Linked DNA regions of Homo sapiens. The protein of the gene in region 7 interacts with the protein of the main gene of each other region in a pairwise test. Each region holds a gene or a part of one and is shown on either strand. Other genes may lie near its edges.

What was found.
Region 1: the proteins of DAB1 (region 7) and LGALS9C interact in binary tests that used the Homo sapiens proteins (3 or more experiments, as listed by UniProt).
Region 2: the proteins of DAB1 (region 7) and LGALS9B interact in binary tests that used the Homo sapiens proteins (3 or more experiments, as listed by UniProt).
Region 3: the proteins of DAB1 (region 7) and NAF1 interact in binary tests that used the Homo sapiens proteins (3 or more experiments, as listed by UniProt).
Region 4: the proteins of DAB1 (region 7) and ZCCHC10 interact in binary tests that used the Homo sapiens proteins (3 or more experiments, as listed by UniProt).
Region 5: the proteins of DAB1 (region 7) and HMBOX1 interact in binary tests that used the Homo sapiens proteins (3 or more experiments, as listed by UniProt).
Region 6: the proteins of DAB1 (region 7) and TMTC3 interact in binary tests that used the Homo sapiens proteins (3 or more experiments, as listed by UniProt).

The regions. Positions count from the first base shown.
Region 1 is NC_000017.11:18,490,289-18,493,788, forward strand, and holds part of LGALS9C (galectin-9C), read left to right. Parts: intron 1-444; coding exon 445-480; intron 481-984; coding exon 985-1,035; intron 1,036-1,656; coding exon 1,657-1,701; intron 1,702-2,168; coding exon 2,169-2,257; intron 2,258-2,408; coding exon 2,409-2,571; intron 2,572-3,500. UniProt on the Homo sapiens protein: Binds galactosides.
Region 2 is NC_000017.11:20,464,740-20,468,711, reverse strand, and holds the start of LGALS9B (galectin-9B), read left to right. Parts: upstream 1-1,172; 5' UTR 1,173-1,241; coding exon 1,242-1,280; intron 1,281-3,972.
Region 3 is NC_000004.12:163,146,391-163,149,890, forward strand, and holds part of NAF1 (H/ACA ribonucleoprotein complex non-core subunit NAF1), read right to left. Parts: intron 2,045-3,500; coding exon 1,951-2,044; intron 1-1,950. UniProt on the Homo sapiens protein: RNA-binding protein required for the maturation of box H/ACA snoRNPs complex and ribosome biogenesis.
Region 4 is NC_000005.10:133,002,550-133,006,049, forward strand, and holds part of ZCCHC10 (zinc finger CCHC domain-containing protein 10), read right to left. Parts: intron 817-3,500; exon of another isoform or gene 548-816; intron 1-547.
Region 5 is NC_000008.11:28,963,395-28,966,894, reverse strand, and holds part of HMBOX1 (homeobox-containing protein 1), read right to left. Parts: intron 3,085-3,500; 5' UTR 3,028-3,084; coding exon 3,005-3,027; intron 1-3,004. UniProt on the Homo sapiens protein: Binds directly to 5'-TTAGGG-3' repeats in telomeric DNA. Associates with the telomerase complex at sites of active telomere processing and positively regulates telomere elongation.
Region 6 is NC_000012.12:88,194,307-88,197,346, reverse strand, and holds part of TMTC3 (protein O-mannosyl-transferase TMTC3), read right to left. Parts: intron 2,510-3,040; coding exon 1,698-2,509; 3' UTR 1-1,697. UniProt on the Homo sapiens protein: Transfers mannosyl residues to the hydroxyl group of serine or threonine residues.
Region 7 is NC_000001.11:57,008,061-57,011,560, reverse strand, and holds part of DAB1 (disabled homolog 1), read left to right. Parts: exon of another isoform or gene 1-288; coding exon 289-416; exon of another isoform or gene 417-770; coding exon 771-866; 3' UTR 867-881; exon of another isoform or gene 882-3,500. UniProt on the Homo sapiens protein: Signaling adapter of the reelin-mediated signaling pathway, which regulates the migration and differentiation of postmitotic neurons during brain development.

The DNA.
Region 1 (3,500 bases), on a different chromosome or scaffold from region 7:
TCTTTCTGAGCCTCATTGCCTCACCAGGGACACAGGAGCTGAGGCTGCTTCCCTCTTTGGAAAGCACTGAAGCCCAGGACTCGGCCCACAATAGGCCTTCAACAAATACCACTTCTCAGCTTACGGGTGAAATATGGCACCGGAAGTAATGCTCTTGGCTGTGGGAGCTACAGACAGCAATGAGGTCTCTATCAAACCCAGCCTCCTCTCTCTCGAGAGGAACCAGTGGGGATACCCTACCCCTCAACCCCAAAGCCTTGTGCACCTGAGGGTAAAAATCTGGGTGCCACGGGCTCAGGAAGGCTTGCTTGGGAGCAAGAGGGAGGTGGGTGTGTCTGGGGAGGCATTTCTGAGCACAAGAGCCTCCCTGGAGTTCTGCCATCGTCTCTCCCCGTTCTGTGGTGCCCGCAATAACCACCGTTCTGACTCTCCTCACCCCTCCAGCCTCCCAGCGTGCGGCCTGCCAACCCAGCTCCCATTGTAAGTCTCTTGCTTTCTTTTTGGATCCTCTTGATTTTGGCTCTTCTTCTGGGCTAATGGAGGATGCAGGGCCAGGCATTGGGCCTCTCCCATCGGGAGTGGGGAGGGCAGAGGCCAGGCCCTTGACCATCTACCCGGCCTGGCGAGGTTGGTGGGTGAATGTGGTTGGCTGGCCGTGATGGAACAACCTGAGTTGCCACTCCATGGGCAGCCACGGAAGACCATGCCCCACGTTCACTTCTCTCACCTGCAAAGGGAGGCTAGGCTGAGAGACGTTTCCCCGAGAGGAAAGATGGGCCAGAGCCACCAGCGTCCCCATCTGTCTTCTCCAGGGTCCTAACCTTTGCCTCTCCCTCGTCCCCTGGACCCACCCTCCGTGGGGTCTGTGGGGCCACTGGGCTGGTTATGCCCCTGGAGGGTGCCTGCCGTGTGGCACCCTCTGGTGGGAGCTGGGGTGGTCTTTACTCAGGAGAGCCTGGGTGAGACCTGGTTTCTTTCTTCCAGACCCAGACAGTCATCCACACGGTGCAGAGTGCCTCTGGACAGATGTTCTCTGTAAGTCTTCAAGTTCTGATCAGTTCACAGCTGCACAGTGCCCTCCTTCCCCAAGAACTAAACTCCCTAGAGCCCTAGAGTTGGGAAGAAAGCGGTTTAGCAAGGAGGGTGGGGACATCTGGGGCTGAGTCCTTGGCTCAGGTGACATGTGGTTAAAACTATCCTTGGGACAGCAGAGATTCTGGATTTATCCAGTGGTGGAAGAGGCAGGTTCCCTAGAGACTGGGAGGGAAACTGGTCCTTCTGTCACCAAGTGGGGAGTGCAGTGGCCCCAGCACCCGGATGTGAGGTTCCTGGCCCTGCCTCCTGGGTCCCCGGGATGTCACTACAGATCACAGGCTTAAGCTCTTCTCCTGCTGGTGCAAATCAGGCCGGGAACTTAGCATTAGTGGGGCTGCCTGCGGAGGGGCTGAGGGGCAGGTGACCATGGTGGGGTCTGGGAACACGGCAGGAAGTTCCAGGAAGGCTAACATGAAAACGGAGGTTTACGGGAGAGTCCAAGGGCCAAAGGCTCATGAGGTCAGCCTCACAGTGGAGCCCCCTCTAGAATGCGTGGGTGCGCGTGGGTGAGTGCTCGCGCACACATGCGCTCTCCCATTGAATTTCCTGGTTTCTTTTCAGCAGACTCCCGCCATCCCACCTATGATGTACCCCCACCCTGCCTATGTAAGTGGTTTCTCAGGGAGGGCAGAGGTTCTGTTTGTGGTGGGCAGGCTAGGGATGAAGGGCCGCTACGGGGGGATCCGCTGGCCTTGAAAAATGAAAAGCGAAGGGCTTTCAAAATGGTAAGCTGAAGGGCTTCAAAGCGTCCCAGTGAATTAGAAGACTGTGGAGAGGAGCTTTCAACCTTAAAACTGTCGTGTCAACGTGAGCACATTGCATGGCCCTCCCTTTTCACCCCACGAGTCTTTCTTTCTGTGTTTGGCCAAATTTCCTTTCATGACACTAATCTAAGCCCATTAATTTGAGGAGCACCGGAAAGTTTTCCTTTGGCTTTTATGGAACCAAGGAAAGATATCGTGGGCTTCTTCTCAGCTGACAGCCTAAATTCATGGGAACTGGTACAATCTTCCCCTTCCATGTGGCGGCTGCCCTGACTGCCACTGGCTGACCTGTCCCCGTCCTTCTGACAGCCGATGCCTTTCATCACCACCATTCCGGGAGGGCTGTACCCATCCAAGTCCATCATCCTGTCAGGCACTGTCCTGCCCAGTGCTCAGAGGTAAGCCAAAGGCTCCAGTGACCTCTGGGAAGAGAGAGCCCTTCAAGGTCATTCCAGCCATTCCCCTGGCTTTTGGCAGGCTGGGGATGATGGGGAGGAAATGGGGCTCAGAACTCAGTGGACAAAGGTCCAGGTAGGCTGCCCACCCCAGGTTCCACATCAACCTGTGCTCTGGGAGCCACATCGCCTTCCACATGAACCCCCGTTTTGATGAGAATGCTGTGGTCCGTAACACCCAGATCAACAACTCTTGGGGGTCTGAGGAGCGAAGTCTGCCCCGAAAAATGCCCTTCGTCCGAGGCCAGAGCTTCTCGGTAAGGCGCCGCAGCCTGGAGCTTGAGGAGGCTCCTATGGGTACACGGGGAGGGGGTAAAGGAGGTCTGGGGTACCTTGAACAGGATGGGAGCTGATGCCTCTGGGATGAGGGCCCAGAAGAAAAGGTGGCCAAAAAATTATTGTCATTATTATTAATAATTATTACTGTCCTGCATGAAGGAAGCGTTGGGATCTGCTTTTTTAGATGAGGAAAGAAACTCACAAGTGCAGGTTACTTGCTTGCGGTCACACAGTCAGTAAGTGTCAAATCAGACCCAAGAAGGAGGTGTTATTCATTTCTTCACTGACTCATTCAACGATTTCACTGTCGCCCGCTTTGTGCAGGAAGCACTCCACATGCTGGGAGCGCAGTCATGAAGCAGACACGTAGGGTCCTTCCTCCAGAGAGTTTACAATTTAGCTGGGGGAAGGAACAAGGAAACTAAAGCATGAACAGATTGTTGCAGATAACAACAGTGCCACGCAGAAAGCAAAACAGAGCGATGAGATAGAGCGAGCCTGGGAGGGGCAGCTAGGGCCAACATGCAGAGGTGTGGGTGTGGCCTCTCCAGGAACAGCAGCAGGCGTGCTCCGCCCTGACTACACATTCAAATCACCCAGAGAGCTTACAAAGAACATATAGGTGCTGGGACCCCAGCCCAGGCCAATGAGGCGGTCAGCCTGGGCATTTGTATTTTTAAAATATGCCTGAAGTGATTACACTCTGCAATCAGAGTTGAAAATGACTGATGTAGGGCTTTGCAGCCATGGAGCCAGGGAGCAACATTCTTTGATTTGTGGACAGCTGTGTGACCTCGGGCAAGTGACTTAGCTACTCTGTGCTTCAGTTTCCTCATCTACAAAATGGAGCTAATAATCATATGAATCTCCTAGAGCTGTAAGAATGGAATGAGGCAGTATCTGTAGC
Region 2 (3,972 bases), on a different chromosome or scaffold from region 7:
ATTTCCCTTCTTTTCTCTCCTTTCTGCTCCCCTTGTACTGTCTACTCCTTAACTTGGTCAAATTCTACTTGATCCAGAACATAATGGGATGGTGAGTGCAGACGACACACACGGCCTCAGTCTATGGGAACATCTCAAAGGAGTTCGTCTGCAAATTCTAGTGCATCTAGGCAGAACACAGGAAGGAAGAGAGGTGCAGACTCACGTATGGCCTGGGGCACCTGCCATCCCCTCGAGCCTGTATGGTCCTTACCCGCCCATCCCCAGCTTGAGTTCTGGGCCTTCTCGCCAGCACATCGTTGGGACCTGGTCAACTTCAGGTAAGTTTATTTCATGGCTCCCTCTCCCCTCTGCAGCCTATCCTGTTATTCTCTGTTTCAGCCAATTATTTCCCCTAACTAGGTGCTGAAGCCAATTAAAGGCAGTTCATGCCATATGTTCCTTCCCACTCCCATGTCACTTGAAATGTTCTATTATGTCCAAGACTTCTCTCCCCATCCTAAAGCTCACAAAATAAGGATGGAGAAGAGAAGAAAGAGAGATTCACTGAGGGGGAGGATCAGAAGCTCCTGGGCACCCCATACTCTAGAATAAAAATCTTCATTATAGTGTTTTTCATGCAAAATATTCCCTTCTACATAATTATGTTTTAACATGAAGAATAGAAATTTAAAGAGGAGAAATACTTCTTGAAGATTCTGAGAATCTTCATATAGCTCAGGCTGCCACGAATTAGCTGTGTGACCTGGGGCATGTCCCTCAGACTCTGAGCCTCAGCTTCTCTATATGTAAAATGGGTTGAAGCCGCCCTTCCCCACAAGCACCCTGTGCACAGGCAATGCCCAGCCCCATTATTTTCTGGAACCAGTGGCCAAGCATGCTTAGGACACCCAGCCACATACTTCTGGGCAGTGTCATCTGGCAACTCACTGTCATGTCAGTGTGGTCAAGCATTGTAGACCTCTATGAACCAAATATGCTTCAGGCTGGGGTTGAGCACAGGAGAGGGAGGAGGGAAAGGTCACTGGGGCTGGGAGTGCCTACTTCCCTCTATGAGTGTCACCCCAGTTCACCCAACACCCTACCTTTCTCTCTCTGGACCCACTTCCTCTTGCTGCCGGCTCCTCCCCATTGAATAACAGCCAAGTTGCTTTGGTTTCTATTACTTTGTTAAGTCATTCCTTCTGCAAAGGACTGCCTGGCAGGTGTGAAAGGCAGCGGTGGCCACAGAGGCGGTGGAGATGGCCTTCAGCGGTTCCCAGGCTCCCTATCTGAGCCCAGTGAGTTCCAGGGCCGTGGGCACAGGGCTGCCTCAGCCAGGGGGACACAGTTATGGGGCTCTGAGGAAGCAACTCCTGGGTGGCAGGAGACAGGGGTGGGGGCATCCCAAAGAGAACACAAGCAGGGCAGAAATGTCAGTGGGGGTCGTCCTGGCACAGCTGTGCCATGCTGAGCTCACTCATGCCTGGAGGGATGCTCCTCCCATGAATCATGGGTTTGACAGTGTTGGCTGAGCTGTCGTGTCCTGTCCTGTGCGCTCAGGGGAAGAGGTGTAGAGTGGGATGGTTTGTGTAAAGAGGAAGCAAGCATGCTTCTGGGACAGTAAGGATGCTACCCGGCATGGTAGTTAAGGGTGCGTACTGTGGAGTTGGCCTCCCTGGGTCCAGCTATTTACTGGCTGGTGGTCTCTGGGCCTCAGTTTCCATATCTGTGAAGTGGGAATAATACTTGAGCCCCCCACTCCCAGGGTTGGGATATGGATTAAGGAAGTAGTGTATCTAGAGTGTTTGAACAGTGCCTGACACACTGTAGGTGCTTTGGGAGTGTTTCATGTTATTGGGAGTCTGGGGGCAGCAGGGAAGGCCTCCCGAGGAGGTGTCTGTGCTCTGAAGGGTGAGGCGGAGTTAACCAGGCATAGGCATGTCAGGGCATCTGTAGACGGACAGTCTCAGAGGTGACGGAGGCAGGGACTGTCCCTGCAGTGTGGGGTCAGAGGGCTGCAGGTGCCTTGCTGAAACTCTGTGAGGTTTATGAGTCCCCTTCATTCACGGAAAATCCAAGGTTCAGGGAGGCAAAGGCCAGTTGCCAAATGCCCCCAGATGGGAGTGGCAGCCCCAGGAGCCCAGGAGCCTTCAGGGGTGACTGTGTCCTGGGCTGGGTCCTGTCACAGGATCTCACCCTGCCTTGGCAAAGAGCTTCCCGAGGGGCTGGAGTGGGTGGGCTGATGGGCCCTTCCTGAGTGGGGAGACAGAATGGGGAGGGTGGGCAGAGGCAGGGTGCTGAGGGCAGGGAAGCTGCCAGGGGCCACCTCAGCAGAGGCCAGGGTCGGGCTTGGGTGCCCTCTGGTGATACTGAGTCCAGAATGAGGCTGCCTATGTTCTGGTCTGCAGAGCTCAGCTCTGCTTTCTAGACTCCAGAGAGGAAGAATGGAGAAAGGAGGCCTGTTTCCTCCTGGCTGTCACCAATGACCCCTCAGCCACCCTATGGAAGCCCCCAAGGTAGAACCTGCATAGAGGGAGTGGGGGAAGCTGGAACGGGCTGCCGGTGTTGGGCGAGCCTTAGAGTCAGCGTATGCCACCTTGAGCATGTCACCCCGTTTCTGGTTTTCTGCCAGAGAGGGGATCCCAGAGCTTCTTCCAGGTTCTGACATATTATTATTCTGGTAACTGGTTTTTACTTTCTAATCTTTGGATTCAGAAGGAAAATCCTCCTATGCACATCAGAGAGTTTGAGAGAGTTAAAGCGGGGCCTTGGAGCTCAGACAAGAAAGACGATCAGTGCAGCCCCCACAGGTGTCCAGAGCTCCCCTCTACCCTACGGGGGCTCCCCTGGGTTGGGACACTTGAGCCTCACTCGGTGACCCATCTGGCAGTCGGAGCCACGCTTTCTCCACATGCCGACAGTGGGGGAAGGTCACGCGGTTCACTGTCCTGCTGAGGAGGGCTGAGTGCCATGAGGGCCTGGCTTGGAAACCTCACTCCCACTTCTTGTCTGGCCTCATCTAGCCCAGCCTCTTTGGAGGGCTGGGGGGAAGCTGGAACCACCTGCTGTGTGGCCCAGGAAGCACTGCGAGAGCCAGGAATAAGGACGTTCCGAGCTTCCTCATGAGAGGAAGCCTGTGTGGTGGTTAGAAGCGTGGGTGCTGGGGTTCAAATCCCAGCTCTGTTGCCGACCAGCTGTGTAGCTTTGGGCAAGTGACTGAACTTTTCTGTGCCTCAGTTTCCTCATCTGTAAAAGTGGCCGGGGTTGCTGTGAGGATAAATGTTCCCGGTCACCCCCAGAGCCCTCATGGACACACATGGATCCAAATGCCACAGCAGCCTTAGCTGGCCAACTTAAAACAACACATTTGTGCTTACAGTGTTGGAGGTCAGAAGGCTAAAATCAAAGTGTCATGAAAGGTGGCCAGCAGGACCGTGGAGCCTCTGAGGCAACAGGGCACTTTGGCTAAGGGCCACGTACTGGCTCCAGCTGGCAGGCAGTCTCGGCCAGCCAGGCTGAGCTCCCTACTCCTGGGGCCAGGCCTTGGTGTCCTCTGGTGATGCTGAGTCCAGAATGAGGCTGCCCACATTCTGGTCCGCAGGGCTCAGCTCTGCTTTGACTTCCAGGTAGGAAGAAGAGGGAAAGTCCCCGGTCTCTGGGCACAACCAGGAACAGAGAGCAAGTTCTGACTCAGCAGAGGGATTGATTTGTTCCATGCAAAGAGCTGCACTGTCAAGGCCGACATGGGCCAGAGGCTCAGCACATGGCATCGCACCCCGTCCTCTCAGAACGCTGCCAGCCAGGGACTCAGCACATGGCATTCCACCCAGTCCTCTCCAGAATGCTGCCAGCCAGGGACTCAGCACACAGCATTGCACCCAGTCCTCTCCAGAACACTGTCGGGTGGTGTTACTGCCCTGCCATTCAGAGGAGGGAAGTGGGGCACAGGCAGGTCAAGTGACTTGGCCAGTGTCAGAATTGCTAGTGTAC
Region 3 (3,500 bases), on a different chromosome or scaffold from region 7:
TCCCTCCTCAAAAAGCAAAAACATAATCTCCAAATCTCCAGTTCTTTTAAATGACACAAATATTAAAGAACTGATCTACCATAACAAAGAGAAAACACACGCACACACAAACACACTCTCAATAAGTTTTTAGAACATCAGAGCCACAAGTAAGAACACTGTTACATTACATAGATAATACCATGTCAACTAAGGGAATAAAATATATTACCTCAGATTATCAAAATTAATTCAAACAATTTCTTTTGTATCTCAATTAATTTTAACAGTGGATACTTCAGGCTGGGCACGGTGGCTCACGCCTGCAGCACTCTGGGAGGCTGGCGAGGAAGGACGGCTTGAGCCCAGGAGTTTGAGACCAGCCTGGGCAACGTAGCAAGACCTTGTCTCTATTAAAAATCTCTATTAAAAATCTGCAACAGTAGCATGTGCTGATTTTGACCCATTTACTCTTTATTCCCATTAGGTTGAGAATTTTTTCAGTCTATGTTAGTCAAAATAGTATTGTTAAAAATGCAAAAATGACATGCATTATTCCATGTACGTCAGAGTTTACATTTATTTTTTTGAGGATCAACATTATGACCTAAAATTTTTCTGTATACATCAAGTCTAATAAATGTTTAAATCATACCACATAATCAAGAAATTAGTTGCCTGTTTGATTTATCTATATATATTATTAAATACCATAACTCTAAAACTAGTAAATGTAATGATTCCAGAATCACGGAAAGAATTTTAATTATTATTTTTGAAAAGAAGGTTCATTTTAATCTACATTTTTATTAATAAACTGAAAAAGTACAAAATTATGTAAGTGTTAATTTTTAAAAATATCAATATAGACACTGTTAGAAAAAAGTCAAAAGAAAAAGGTCCTATTTCTACCACTGACTCACTATACAACTGGTCCTAAGAGCAACTGACTTGAATTTTTCTGTTTCCTCAGGTCCTGTGGAGGCTGGTGGGCAATCTAGGTCCTCTTCACAGTTCCAAAATCCTATTACTTTGTCAGTGCTGAGTTCTATTCTCCAGCATATCCTACTACGAGTTAATAGTACCTATATTAACAAGAATCTCACAGAACAAACTCACATGTTGGGGCTAAAGAAGTCTAAAATATTAAGTTCTCTTATAACTCAGCAACTTCATATTTCATGCCATTAATAACAGTATTAAATTACAAAACTTTCTCACATGTTTTTAAGACAAAATCAAAGGTGGTGAGCAGAATGGCTCCCCAAGAGATATCCACACTCTAAATACCTGAATCTGTAAATACATTACATTTTTAAGAGCCTTTGCAGATGTGATTAAAGTTAAGGACCACGAGATAGGGGAGATTATCCTGGATTATGCAGGTAAACTCAATCTAAAAAGTCTTTAAAAGCAGAGAACCTTTCCACATGTGGTTAGAGTGAGGTGAGATAATGGAAGAAGGCTCAGAGACAGACGTTACATTACTGGCCTTCAGGATGAAGAAAGAGAGCCAAAAGTCAAGGAATGTGGGCAGGCTCTAGAACCCAAAAAGAGCAAGGAAGTAAGATTCTCCCCTAGTACCTACAGAAAATAACTCAGCCCTGTTAACACCTTTGATTTTAAGCCCACTGAGACCCACATGAGAACTGTATGATAAAATTGTGCTGCTGTAAGTCACTAAGTTTGCAGTAATTTGGTATAGCAACATTAGAAAACTAATAAACCAAATCAAAGGAAATTCCGGAGGAAGTATGTCAGTAAAAGCAGACATTTAAATTTCTATAAATAAACTGTATTTATATATAATTTTAGTATATGAAAACTGAATTTTATCCCTTCAAACTTAATGACTATAAAATAAAGTGTTAATTACGTATGTCAAAGAAAATTTACTAGTCATAAAAGTCATTGATTCAATTATTAGTGTGTGTTTGGAAACAATTTTTATTAATAGAATTCTTAACATACCTAGTTGTTCAATAATACTTGAAACCATCCCAAGAGGCTTTAACTCAATATCTTCAGGCAGAATAATAGTGAGTTCTTCAACAGAAGGCAGTTCCTATAATTTAAAACAAAACAAAACATTAAACTTCCTCCAGCTTCAACAACTTAAAAAAAATAAATTTTCCATTTTAAGTGCTACACATCTCTGAAAATGCTTTAAGTGCTTAGAGCATCTCTTTAATGTTATCATTTTAGTGGTTGCAGACTTGTGATAGCACTTCTCTCCCTCCAACATTTCTCCACCTAAGTGACTCAACAGGTCTCAAGTATACACCCCAAATTCAGTTAGACTAAGAACACAGACATAAGTACTATTCTACATTCTTTCAGTCACACTTGAACAAGAGACTACCTACTTCCTGTAAAAAAGGCTATTATCAGGCAGAGACATTCCATTTGAAAAGAAATAATTCTACTAGTAACTATAATTTCTCCACATAAGTTCTTTTAGCTGTCTTGTTAAATTGGTTAGTTAATTAGTTTGACTGTGATTAAACAGAACACAGAAGCAGCAATCTTTTCTGCGACTGTGTCAAGAAGAGTTGAATGGCCTCTTCAGGAAAAAGGAAATGACACCTATCAGTGAAACATTGAAGTCCTGAAAAAAGAATATAGGCTTTAGCCTATAAAAACTATGAAGGTGTTGCCTGATACCTTCTCTCTCTAGGTTAAAAAATAAGTTTCTTTACACCTAAAGATTTCTCTTTTCTTACCCACCTGCAAACTGCATCTCAGTTGCTATGGAAACTAGATATTGAAGTACAGATGAATCTGAAGAGAAATCTAAGAATAAATCTGACCTTAGCCTTTAGATTAAAAACACAGCTTTCTGTTCTTGACCCTTGCCAAATGATCTAACTCTCAGAAGGAAGCTTTTCCTCAAGATGGCTTGAAGTGCAAAGACCCTACCAATGGCATTTTAGCAGTTAAACTGGGAGAAGGATAACTTTTGGAGAAATGTTGGAAAAGGTGGGAAAACCTACATAACATGAAGTATACTGCAGACGAATGCATCCTGAGTAATCATATTACCCCTACGGAAACTTAAACTAGGTTCTTAAAATCATTCAACCAGAGTTGATAAGCAGACATCTAAAATACACTTTGTTTCTGGGATATGCTATTTTCTGATACAGGATTACTTATGGAGAGCAACACTACGGGTCTCAACCAACTGATGCAGAAGGAAGTCAGCAACATGCCTTTGTATGGTTAGTCTGCCTGGTGTTAGAGGAAATTATTTTGTTTTATCCATCAGAATTCTTATGAGTACTTTCAAAGAGAGAATAACCACTTGCCCTTTCATCATATTAAACGTGGAAAGCCTTATCTTGGGAAGACCATGGTTTGAAAATGGTTCATGTGTGTATCAGAATGCAGAAGGGAGTTTAGTTGTTAGAACAAACTGTGACATTAAATAGCCTTTTTACAGAAGTTCTTAGCTAAAGCAATCTCAAACCTTGTTAAATACAAGACTGGATAACTATAATTTTGGGGGACTGCAGAGAAGA
Region 4 (3,500 bases), on a different chromosome or scaffold from region 7:
CAAACATTTTTTTGCTTACATTCCTAATAAAATAATTTCTGGAAAACTCATACTTGCAATTCTAAGTTTTAATATTTGCAAAGGGCATATTATATACATATTATAAAAAGTTCTACAATAATTTAATACCTATTATTCACATAAGAACATATGAACATTTTTAACAGCTGATACTTTTTCTTTTTTTTGAGGTGGAGGCTCGTTCTGTCGCCCAGGTGGGAGTGCTGTTGCATGATCTTGGCTTACTTCAACCTCTGCCTCCTGGGTTCAAGCAATTTTCCTGTCTCAGCCTCCTGAGTAGCTGGGATTACAGGTGCCCGCCACCATGCCTGGCTAATTTTTGTACTTTTAGTAGAGATGGCGTTTCACCATGTTGGTCAGGCTGGTCTCGAACTCTTGACCTCAGGCGATCCACCCACTTCGGCCTCCCAAAGTGTTGGGATTACAGGTGTGAGCCACCACGCCCGGCCTTTTTTTAAGAAACAGGGTCTTGGCAGATACTACTTAGCCCAGGGCCTGGTGGCTAGGCTGGTTGTCTCCTTTCCAGTTGGAGGCTTCTGCTGCAAACATTCTCCGCCAGATCATGGGTCAGGCCAAGAAGCATGCGAAGTTGATCCCCCTTTTTGTATTTATTGGAACTGGAGGTATTGGAGCAGCACTGTTTCTCTCGCCTCTGACATTGTTCAATCCAGATGTTTGTTGGGACAGAAAGACTAACCCAGAGCCCTGAACAAACTGGGTCCCAATGATCAATACAAGTTCTACTCAGTGAATGTGGATTACAGCAAATTGAAGAAAGAAGGTTCAGATTTCTAAATGAAATGTTTTACTATAAAGCTCCTTTAGAATGAAGGTCTTCCAGAAGCCATCCGCACAATTTTCCACTTAACAGGAAATATTTCTCCTCTAAATGCATGAAATCATGTTGAGGTAATCTACTGGAGATTACACTGATTAATAAATAACTGAAAGTTGAAAAAAAACCCAAAAAACCCAGCATCTTGCTATGTTGCCTAGGCTGTTCTTAGACTTCTGGCCCCAAGTGATCCTCTTGTCTTGGCCTCCCAAAGTGCTGGGATTACAGGCATGAGCCACAGCATTTGGCTGATAGTATAAATTTTAATAACTATTACATTAAAACAAACTTATTGGTAATGTGTATATATATATATTTTTGGCGAGATACAGTCTCACTGTATCACCCAGGCTGGAGTGCAGTGGTGTGATTTCAGCTCCCTGCAACTTCTGCCTCCTGGGTTCAAGTGATCCTCCTGCCTCAGCTTCCCAAGTAGCTGCGATTACAGGGTGCACCACCGCACCTAGCTAATTTTTGTATTTTTAGTAGAGACAGGGTTTTGCCATGTTGGCCAGGATGGTCTCGAACTCCTGACCTCGAGTGATCCACCCACCTCGGCCTCCCATAGTGCTGGAATTACAGGCATGAACCACTGTGCCCAGTCCGGAAATGCATTTCTTAATGACAGATTTTTTTCTAGTTTATGTATCTATAAATAAATATTTCTTCATGGTAGAATGTGACCAGGTTTGGCATCAATTAAATTCCTATTTTTAAATTTTATTTTTTCAATAGAGATGGCTCCTTGGGAATTATTTCTTATTTTTAATTTCTTTTTTTTTTTTTGAGATGGAGTTTCGCTCTCGTTGCCTAGGCTGAAGTGCAATGGTGCAGTCTCGGCTCACCACAACCTCCGCCTCCCGGGTTCAAGTGATTCTCCTGCCTCAGCCTCCCAAGCAGCTGGGATTATGGGCATGCGCCACCACGTCTGGATAATTTTGTATTTTTAGTAGAGACGGGGTTTCTCCATGTTGGTCATGTTAGTCTCAAACTCCCAACCTCAGGTGATCCACCCGCCTTGGCCTCCCAAAGTGCTGGGATTACAGGCATGAGCCACCGCGCCCGGCTTAGTTCTTATTTTATTTTTATTTTTATTTTCTGAGACGGAGTCTCGCTCTGTCACCCGGGCTAGAGTGCAGTGGCGCGATCTCGGCTCCCTTGCAAGCTCCGCCTTCCGGGTTCACGCCATTCTCCTGGCTCAGCCTCCCGAATAGCTGGGACTACAGGTGCCCACCACCACGCCCGGCTGATTTTTTGTATCTTTTTAGTAGAGACAGGGTTTCACTGTGTTAGCCAGGAAGATCTCCATCTCCTGACCTCGTGATCTGCCTGCCTCGGCCTCCCAAAGTGCTGGGATTACAGGTGTAAGCCACCGTGCCCGGCTTAATTCTTAAGTGTTACATATTTAACCTAGAGAAACCCTAACCTAAATAGATTGATTGGAATGGAAAGACTTTTGTTATTTCCATGTCACTCGATTCTCTGCATTCCATCTGTTATATGCCACAAGTCACATAATAATATTCCATTAAAATATGCTTTTTAATTGACAATTCAATTAGGTCATCTTCAATTTTGTTGAGGGAAAAACCTTAAAAAAGAATTTACTCTCAGCTGGGTGCGGTGGCTCACGCCTGTAATCCCAGCACTTTGGGAGGCCGAGGCGGGCAGATCATGAGGTCAGGAGATCGAGACCATCCTGGCTAACATGGTGAAACCCAGTCTCTACTAAAAATACAAAAAATTAGCCAGGTGTTGTTGCACGCACCTATACTCCCAGCTACTCCGGAGGCTGAGGCACAATCACATGAACCTGGGAAGCAGAGGTCGAAGTGAGCTGAGATCGCACCACTGCACTCCAGCCTGGGTGACAGAGCAAGACTCTGTCTCAAAAAAAAAATTTTTTACTCTAAAAAATTATGGCCAGCTGGGCATGGTGGCTCATGCCTATAATCCCAGCACTTTGGGAGGCTGAGGTGGGTGGATTGCTAGAGCTCAGGAGTTTGAGACCACCCTGGGCAACATGGCAAAATCCCATCTCTACCAAAAATACAAAAAATTAGCCAGGCGTGGTGGTGTGCATCTGAAGTCTCAGCTACTGGGGAGGCTGAGGTGGGAGAATTACTTGAACCCAGGAGGTGGAGGTTGCAGTGAGCTGAGACTGCACTCCAGATTGGATGACACAGTGAGACTCTGTCTCAAAACAAACAAACAAAACTATTATGACCATTCACTTTCTCAGCACAAACACCACTATTCTGCCATCTAGGTTTTTATACGTGAGGACAATACACTAAGGTATGTTAGAGATGGGTGAGAGGTATACCTTTCTTTTGTGAGATTAGAGAAGCGTTGTTAGAAAAGGGGAAGTAGAAAAGGAGACCAGTAGGCAAGTTCTCATCAGATTTGTTTTAGGAAGAATTGTATATGAATGTTGATAATCTAGAAATTGGTTATCTATTCCTGCATAACGCTTGAAGAACTTTCACGTCACAAATTGGAAGACTGTTGCCTTGAAAGTCTAAATATTTAAGACACTATTATACAGCTAACAGCCCTTAGGAAGATGCTGCTTTTTTTTTTTTTTTTTTTTTTTTGAGACAGAGTCTCCCTCTGTTGCCCAGTCGGGAATGCAGTGGCACAA
Region 5 (3,500 bases), on a different chromosome or scaffold from region 7:
CCTTGTTCAAATTAGATGTCTGTGCCCTGCACTGAGAGTTTCCTAATGCAAATATAACCTAAAGCAAAATGATCCACAATTGCTAGAATGATCATTCATATGATCACTACAAAGCAAAGTGATTAAGAGCATAACAAACAGGATCAAAGCATGCATGTGACACTGAAGATACAATATTTTACTGAGAAAACGCTGAGTCTAGAAGCTCTCCTGGATATTGAGAATAATGTTCCAATGTGTATTAATATAAACAAAGGCATATACTCCGGCATTTCACAATTTTATTTCTCATAATTTACCTAGTTTAAGCATATAATCACGAATTTATGGCAGTAAATGACCTACAAAGGTCATCTAAGTCCATGATACCAGCAATTCTTTTATAACAGAAAAAGATAACATGTAAGAATTGAATTAATTTTCTTATGCACAAGGATTGTTCAGAGGATAAGGAACATCTTTCACTTTAAATTACTAATCTGAATGCAGACTCAGGCCAACAATAATTGAAAATGATGTGAGAAGAATTTCACCACTGTAATAACAGACAGTGTTTAAGGCATAAAAGAACAATTAAATTCAGGAATTATGGCTCAGTTCATAAACTGATATTCTAAGAAAATATCATACCATAAGACCATAATAATAACTTTTCACAATACATTTTATCCTGACTTGAATATGTACCTAAACCCTTCTTGGATAAGGCATGAGGTCTAGAATATACTTTCATAAGCTAAATTCTACAAACATGTAGAGCAAAGAAGATTAAAGCATTCACAAATAATTAATCTTGAAATCACAGAGGTAAAAAGGACATTACTATCTTACTTGTAAAGCACCAACAGTAAAATTTTATTGGATAACAGCTTTTTCTTCAGCTCAATTCTGCTGTCTTTATTTTTATTATCTAGAATGACTAGGCAAAATAGGTTAGTTTTGTTTTGCATACATGATATTTACTGCATGCTAATTTAACACACTCTAGGGTCAATCACAATATTTTTATCAGAGAGAGAACTCTCCATCCTCTCAGGAATGTCACCTCATGTCAAACTGCATATGTGAGTTACTGTCACAACTACTGGACTTCAAAATACATATACACTCAAGAGCTTAACAGACACTTTGGGAGCTTAGGCTGTGGCAGGGCTACTCTCTGTCAGCAGCTTCTCCAAAACCAGAGAGCTCAGGCTGCAACAGGCCTCAAAGCTTTTATACCTTGCAGGCCAGCATTTTCTAGCACTGAGGGGCCTTCCTTGTGGTCTCAGATCTCAGCTATGGTGGTCAAGCCAGCCTCTCCCAAGAACTGCTCATGTAAAGGTACACCTCCACCTTTAGCCTTCACTTGAACACAGAGGCCTCCTTTCATCATAATTGAGCAAAGACACTTTAATAGCTTTGGAACACATTCATAATGTGGTTAATGTACCTCATCTATTGAGTGTATTCCCTGTGAAGTCTGTCTATGTTACTCTCCCCATCTTTAAGTACTGTGAACCCAAGAAAAAATTCTCTTTGTATGGCAATAAACACTGTGATTCATGAAATCATACTTTGATCATCTTATTTCTACCATATGTGACAAAAATCCAAGTACAAACATGCACATTTATAAAGGGAGATATAAGTTAGGTGTGGAATGAGAAAACTGGAGATCACTTAGACAAAAATCATTCATTTAAGTAACATTTATTGAATGCCTACTATGTAACAGATCCTGTGCAAGGCACAGAGGACACAACAAGGAACAAATCAGGCAAAAATTCATGGCTTCATGATGCTTACATTCATTTCAGTAACTATTAGACATCTTACTATTTTCAATAGCCATTAGACGTCTTAACTCTCCTGAATGCTTAGCCATCTATCTCAGAAACTTCTAGGCTTTGAGCAGTTAAAAATAATAAGTAATTTTATATTCAATTTAAAATTAATGTCAAAATTCAAAGTTGAAAATAGAAATGGTAACAGAGAAGGCTGATAGATTGAAAATAGCCATTAGCAAATAAATTTTTTTAAAAAGTGGGGAGGGAAACTAAGGCCCAAAGAGGTGAAGTGCCTTCCCAAGGATATAGCTACTTAGCAGAAAGTCGGGCTACAGTTCACATCTTCTAGGTCTGTTCCAGAAACTTTTCACTATATCATAGAATCTACTGGGGTGGGGGTGGGGGAACTATAATGAAAAGCCTAAATAATAAGGAAAATCTCTCTTAATGTTTACTTACTGTATTATAGAACTGTCAACCAAAACGGAAGGAATTTAAGCAAAGTGGAGACTCCATCAAATTTTAGAAAATACTTATGCTAAAGGCACTCTGCATTCGACTCTAAAGATGCACTTAATGAGCTAATAGATACTCTGTCTTCTCTAATATCTGAAATTCCCGGAATACTTTTATTCAAAGGCCTATTTAATATGAACTGGTGGTTATAGTTCATATCCTAGCACAAAAACACTCTCAACACAATACCACTATCTCAATTTGTATTTTCTGCCTGACTCCAAAGAAAGGCTAGCACATCAGCTAATAGGCTTAACTACATCATCATGCCCCCAGCAGGTAAAGGAAAATGGTTAAGGTGCTAGGAGTTTTTACACAAAAGGCAACATGAAGATGTATGCTTCCAGTAGTCTGCTTGTCACAAGGAATCTAATATTAGCTCTCTTGAACTGTTAGTCATCTATCTTGGATGCTTCTAAGCTTTAAGCAGTTAAAAATAATAATTAATTTTATATTCAATTTAAAATTAATGTTAAAATTCAAAGTTGAAAACAGAAATGGTAAGAGAAGGCTGATAGATTTAAAAATTCATTTCTCACCACATGATCATGACACTTATTCACCTTAATGTCAAATAGGTATAACATTTGATTCATTTTCTAAAAAAGCTTTTCAACTCTACAAACGTCTGTTGTCAAATCTGGATCATAATCATAGTGACATCTTAACTTTACTAAAATGATTGTGAAGATAAAAATCAAAAAGGACTTGATACTTACACCACTGGAAAGGAACTAAGCATACTTTACATGAGGCGGATCAATATCCTTTCCAGAGATGATCTGCGTTATCTACCATTCTGTAGAACAAAGATAGAAAATTGAGAAACATTTATGTTAATCAAGTGCTGAATAAAAATTTTAATTATGTAACTGATGGACAGCAAGAGTTAACACTAGCTAATCATGTTAAATATTATATCTTCTGATTTGCATTCTACTGCTTTATTCACCATACACTTTGATCCCTTTCAATTCAGACACAGATCTTAACAAAAAATGGTATCTACTATTCATTGTTTAGAAGCTAAAGATCATGAAGACAACTTATTAGCTGGTTAAAACCATAGTTATAGAGGCACTGATTTCCATTAACTCTAAGATTATAAATTAGACAAAAGTTAAAAATGTTGATGTCAAAAACTCTCACATTGAAATACATATTCAGTACTGAATTATATTAAGCATGGCCAAAGTGTCCAACAATGACTAATGA
Region 6 (3,040 bases), on a different chromosome or scaffold from region 7:
TAACAGAATCTCCTAGATCAAGACCAACTCCCACTGGTATCAGTGCTTGCTTTAAACTACCTAAAAAAAAAAAAAAAAAAAAAAAAATCTATGGCAGATCCTTAGGGAACCTAGTAAGAGTGGGTCTTCTAATGCAGACCTTGTATCTTATGACCTATTTATAAAACAATTCTTAAAAAAAATACAGGATATGGTTTTTGAAACATATATAATTAGAAATTAGTTATCTCAAAGGAACTAAAAAATATATAGTTTTGAAATACTATATAATTAGAAATTACTATCCCAGGATGATAGCCAGAGCTTTCATATTTTAAATTAGAACCAACTTTTTAAGGTATTATAAAGCTCATTTAAAATGTACTTTAATTCAAGAAAAAAAATCAGGTATAAATTAGTAAGTTTAATTTGTAACTACTTTTTAACCTATTTTTCAGGTTTAAATTTGCCCAAACCAACTGAAAAATTTATTAATACTATAGTAGGCTAATTATCTTTTATATCCAGACATTAGGCCAAAAATGATACAATTCTGGTTAATCCATAATATATGCATATATAGGAAAATGCAATAGTAATTTGTTTTCCATACTTGATGATTAAAATAGCTTCAAATATTTTATGAAAGCTTAGTCAAAATAAATATTTAATAAAAAGATATACCATAACAAAATATCAAGAAGTTAGTGTTTGAAAATAAACTGTCACGTTGTTTTGCTTTCAGTCAAACAGAACTGAATTCAGTGGCTTAAGGTATCTAAGAATAATTCAATTGTGACTTTGGAAACAAAAAAATTAAAATCCAGGTTAAGACTACAGAGCTAACACAAAGATGAAAGAGAAGTTTACTACGTTATAACTCAAAAGTTTAGAGTTATTGGGACTTCTCAATGACTACGATCTAAGAAACATGAATAATTTGGGGAGTAAAAGTAAAAAAAAAAAATCATGATTATGTGATTCATGTTGTGACACTCTCAATAAGTAAAACTAAACAACAAAAAATACAGTATATATGAGCACCATTAAAAATGTGTGTATGTAGCTATACATGTGTCAAACTTTACCTGATTAAAAATTACATTTAAAGTTAAAAACAAGTATACAATTATGAAAATACATTCTCAAGCTAACATGTCATGACTTATTTTAAAATGTTTCATCAAGCATTCCTTCTAAAACTCAACTAAGGAATACAACATAAAAAAAGCCAGCATTCTTTTGTAGTGTAAATCCCTTGATTAAACAGAATTACTTAAGTGTTTTCAATTCATAGTTAGATTCTAAGAGGTGCAAGAAAAATGAAGTAGGCAAATAAATGGGAATTAACAGAATAAACCAGCACATGTTGGATTTGTCCTCAAGGGATTATCATTCAGGCCTCAAAATTATTTTTAATTGAGAGCAGTAAAGATTACATTGCCAGAAACACCTTCTTTCTATAATAAAAGTTGTAAATTTGTCACTTCCGCTGTAATATTTCTGCTATATTCACCCACACTCTGAAAACAGCGATACATAATATACATCCTGGGATAATACAGGTCTTTAATGAAAATCTTATTTTGATCCTACTTCAAGGCAGCTCATGATTGACCATTAGGAACCCTTGAACTTTTTTTCAAAGCTCCCAGTAAAAGCAATCACATGATACGGATTGATGTTCTTTGATACCATTGTCACGATAAATATTAATGTTATTCACCATTTAAAATACGTTCAATCTCTTCTAGTCTTTTTAAAGCAGCAACTCTTTTCTTCTCAATTTCTTTGATGTCTTTTGTTGTTTTGTGGGGTGTCTCTTCGTCTCCATTTTTTCCTAATTGTTTGTTGGATTTAGACTGACTTTTATTATCACTTGTTTTTACTATTTGTGTTTGTCTGGATTCACCTCTAATTTCTTTTACACTTTCAGTTGGAATTTTCTTTCCTTCCACACTTGAAATCTTACTGGTTGGGAATATTGGCTCTATAAAACTAGATGAGGAAATCTTATCCCTGACTATATTCAAATGGCGCTGAATATATTCTTCATGTGGTGCTAATGCCAGTGTTTCAAGAAGGCATCTTTCAGCTTTTAATAAGTCTTTTTCTTCAAAATAAACAACACAAAGATTGTGTTTTCCTTGCACATTGCTTGGATCCATCTCCAAAATCCTTTCAAAACATTTTTTTGCTCCTAGTATATCTTTCTTTTGATTCATCAGAATGTCTCCTTTTAAAATGAGGCCCTTGATATGATCAGGGTAGTATCTGAGTAACTCCTCCAAAATTGGCAAAGCCTTTAATTCCTTTGCAGTCTGGGAATACAGGAGAGCCAGATTAAACAAAGCACTTCGGAAGTCGGCTTGTAACTTTATGGCTTTCTTCATCCAAATCTCTGCTTCATTGTCCTTTTTGTCATCCATGGCAAGCATTCCCAAATTGAAATACCCATTAGCATCTAGTGGCTCTTCATTTATATAACTTAGAAGTCGTTTTCTAGCTTCAGGTCTGAGTTTAACCTCACCTAGAAAGTTTTTTTAAAGAAAAAATATATTGTTAATAAAATAATTAAATGTGAGGAACAAAGCCATTTTCAAATACTTAGATTACAAAAAGACAGCTTCAAAACAACTAATTTCCATAGTTAAAAAAAGTAGAAAGCAAAAATCTCGAAGTCTTCATAGGAAAAGCAAAATATTTGAAACAGTAAAAAGATAGCTTATTTCTTTTCCTTTAAAGCAGTAACAGTGCTTCAGAAACCAAAAGGAGAGAAATGTCTCTTATAATTTAGAATTCAATTGGAAATAGAAGGAAAATAGAGAATTCAGAAAAAGAAGCATGGGATTTGCCAACAAAGACATGTATTCAATCTTGATTCTGATAACATTATGACTTTATACACTGAACATGTTACTTAACTTCTCTGGGTTAACTGAGTTTTCTAATAATTGTATGTTGTATATCGAAAAAATGTTCAGCAAATAGTAACTATTACTGGGTAGAAAAAAGCTTCAGAATGACTGTATCACATTTTAAAAAATGTTACTTCAAAGTT
Region 7 (3,500 bases):
TTCTAACAAATTCCCAGATGCTACTGCTGCTGCTTGTCCAAGGACCATCCTTTGAGAACCACTGCCTTACCTATCAGTGTGGACGAGCTCCTTCCTGAAGTCAGATGTGTGAGAGGAAAGATCAATACGTACAGAGAGAGAATTCAAATATTCAACTGATTCCACTGGAAATAGGAAGAGGAATCCTAAGATTTGACTTCAATATAAGCAGATTCCTGAGGTTTCTTTGGGATACATTCATGGCAGCCAGGCACTTAAGATGTCTCTTTTTCTGTGGTCTCTGTGTAGCTCCAACCCCAGCCCCTAGACAGAGCTCTCCATCCAAATCATCTGCATCCCATGCCAGTGATCCTACCACAGATGACATCTTTGAAGAGGGCTTTGAAAGTCCCAGCAAAAGCGAAGAGCAAGAAGCTGTAAGTGACCAGTTTGTTATTTGTTTGTGTTTTTCCTTAAAATTAAGACCTCTGTAACTGAAATGGATAATGCATGAGGAAGCCTACATAGAAAAGAATGCTGGCTCAATCTCATAAGTTCTCAAGGGGTTGCTAAAGGGGCTTTCTTTTGTGTTCAAATGAGTCAGCTGAAAAGGACTGCCTTTTTATTAAATTGTTACTACAAGTCCACATTTGTGGTGTAGCATCCTCTAAATGCCGTTGCACCCTCCTTTACAATAACTGATTGTGCTGCATGAAAGTATATCCAGGTGTCTTATATTTTCAATGCTTGAAAAGAGAGAAAAAAAAAAGTATTATCTTCTTGTGTTCTAGCCTGATGGATCACAGGCCTCATCCAACAGTGATCCATTTGGTGAGCCCAGTGGGGAGCCCAGTGGTGATAATATAAGTCCACAGGCCGGTAGCTAGATAGCGCAGGTCTGGGTAGGTATCTGTCCTTTTTATCTCCTTTACCCTTAAGCTATCTGCTTTCCCTTTTGGTTGTTCTTCACTTCTGAAGCCACATCCTCAATGTTTGCACCATGTCTCCTTGCCTGAGCTGTATTGCTGATGTTTGCACCATCGCTCCTTCCCTGAACTGTATTCCTGATGTTTGCACTATTTCTTCTTGCCTGAGCTATATCACCAGTGTCTGCACCATGTCCCTTTGCCTGGTGTCTACGTTCTACTTTGCCTTTTCTCATGGATGCATGACCTTTGACATATCCTGGGAGGTAGGGGTAGGGGTGAGAAGTGGGAACTGATCATATTATTTTATTAATAATATGTTCTGCGTGGTTGGTGGTGATAGAATGAGGCATGGTCCATGCTACTTAGCATGCATTTAGTTTCTGGAAGCATCAACATTTTGAGATGGACACATTCTGCCCACCCTGATAATTTCTCAGTGAGCCATGGTCCAGATGCTTTAATCTTTTAAGCAAAATGTCACTGCATTTGCCTACAGTCTGCAGATCTAAAGAGGTCACCAATCAAACACACAGAGAAGCCAGACTAAGAAGCAAAAACAAGCAGTGCTTGAAATAAGATTGATCGAGATGTAAGATCAGAGGAAGCCCTTTTCGTCTAGCCAGAAAGGACCCTGCACCCTGCATCCTTTCTGATGTGAAATTCAAAGCCCAGAGATGTGTAGCACTCACTTCTGAGGCTGTGCTGTTTGCACCTGTGCTGCAGCATGTGGATTGCCACCAAATCACTTCAGATTCCATCAGCAGCTACTTTGAGAGAGATGTACTTACATTTACTAGAAGTGGCTTTTGGCACTTGAATTTCAATACATCTGATTTGATCGAAAGAAAGAGGAGCTGATGAAGCAAACCTTCTTAGGAGACAGAAGTACACCTTGTTACCCAGACATGATTTCTAAGGTCACTTCTTGACAAACGTGTTCAATTTTCAGATACCTTCTTAGTTTTCTATAAACACACAGGACTGCAAGGCCATTCCCAAAAGGCTCCTTTTTTAAGTTCTGAACAGCATGGTCAAAACCATTAAAATGGTAAACAGTTTTCTCCACTCATAAATGGATTCGGAGGCTACCTCATAAATGGATTCTGAGGCTACCTCAGAATTAGTCTTAGCCCACACGTAAGTTAGACAGTTACTGAAAGCTAATATGGTATTTTGAAAGTGTATTTTGTTAACAGGTATTTTTATTAAAGAACCTAACACACTGTGTAGGTTGCCACATTTTGTATCAGTGCAATAGCACATAATAATATGTCATGCCATGCAAAACCACCTACGATTCACTTAGAAGTTCACTCTTGCAAAGCTACTTCGGGAGTTGATATATTGAAAGCAAAGTCAATGTTTCAGGAAAAAGAAAAGTTGGGGACTATAGGCAGACTCCTTGGGATGATTCCCCACGAGGTATTTTACCCCCCGCCTAAGTTGTATTTCACGTGCTCAACCTTGCCTTGAAAAATTTGGTGAATAAACTAGAGGTGACAAGAGCCATTCATCAGGATAACAGCAAACATCATCCTAAAATTGAAGTTCTTCTAGAAAACAAAGATGACTTACACCATTTGCAGATCAATGTATTAAACCCTCATCTTTATGAACCTGTTCAGCTTGAGACAATCCTACAAGCCAAACTGTTTCATGGGGCTTTGGTCTGTTCCACATTTAATGCTCTGTCCAGTACCCCAAGCCACAGCTGAGCTGTAAATGGACATAGCATAGTAGTGTGGGAAGAACTCAGGATTTGGACTTGAGTTTAAATCCTAACTCAGCTACTTAATAGTGGGAAATCTTGGGCAAGAACCAAAATTTGAGTCTTGGTTTCTTCATCTGCTAGAAGGGGCTTATATTCTCCATAATGGTAACTGAGATAGTTTATGTTGAGTATCTAGCGCAGAGACAGACACTGAGTAATCAGCTTAAAATTCAGCTTAAAAAAAATATCTAGGTTCTGGAACAACATTGTTTGAGTTCAGCATCTGGCTCCACCACTTCCTGGCTATGTGACACTGCTGTGATTTTATAATTATTCTCTATCTTATTTTCTTCATTTGAAAAATAAGGATAAAAATAGTGTCCACCTCATAGGGTTATTATGTGAACTAAATAAAGTGATATATGTGAAGCTCTTAGCACTGTGTATAGCACATAGAAAGCACCTAATAGATGCTAGCTACCCTCATCATCACCATCACCATCATCATTATCATCATCATTATCATCATCACATATATCCAATTAATGCACGCTCCCCACTCTCTTGGATTTTATACATTTAGCTTTCATGTATAAGACCATTGGTTGGGAGGTTTTGCTTTGTACTTTGTCTTCAGATAATTAATTTTCAATATGTGTCACAACAGCTTTGGAAGGGAAAAAAAGAAAAAAGCCTGCTGCTTAGCTCTCTGGCTTGCCCCACCCCATAATCAGAATGGCCCTGGTTTGGGCCTCACACAGCTCACTGCCAAAAAATGGGCTGTCTTAGAATCACATGCAAGTCAAAATAAGTACCTCCCAGCTCCAGAGGAGGGCTGGACTGTAATCTTCGGTGAAGTAATTTTCTCCCTTTGAAAGCTT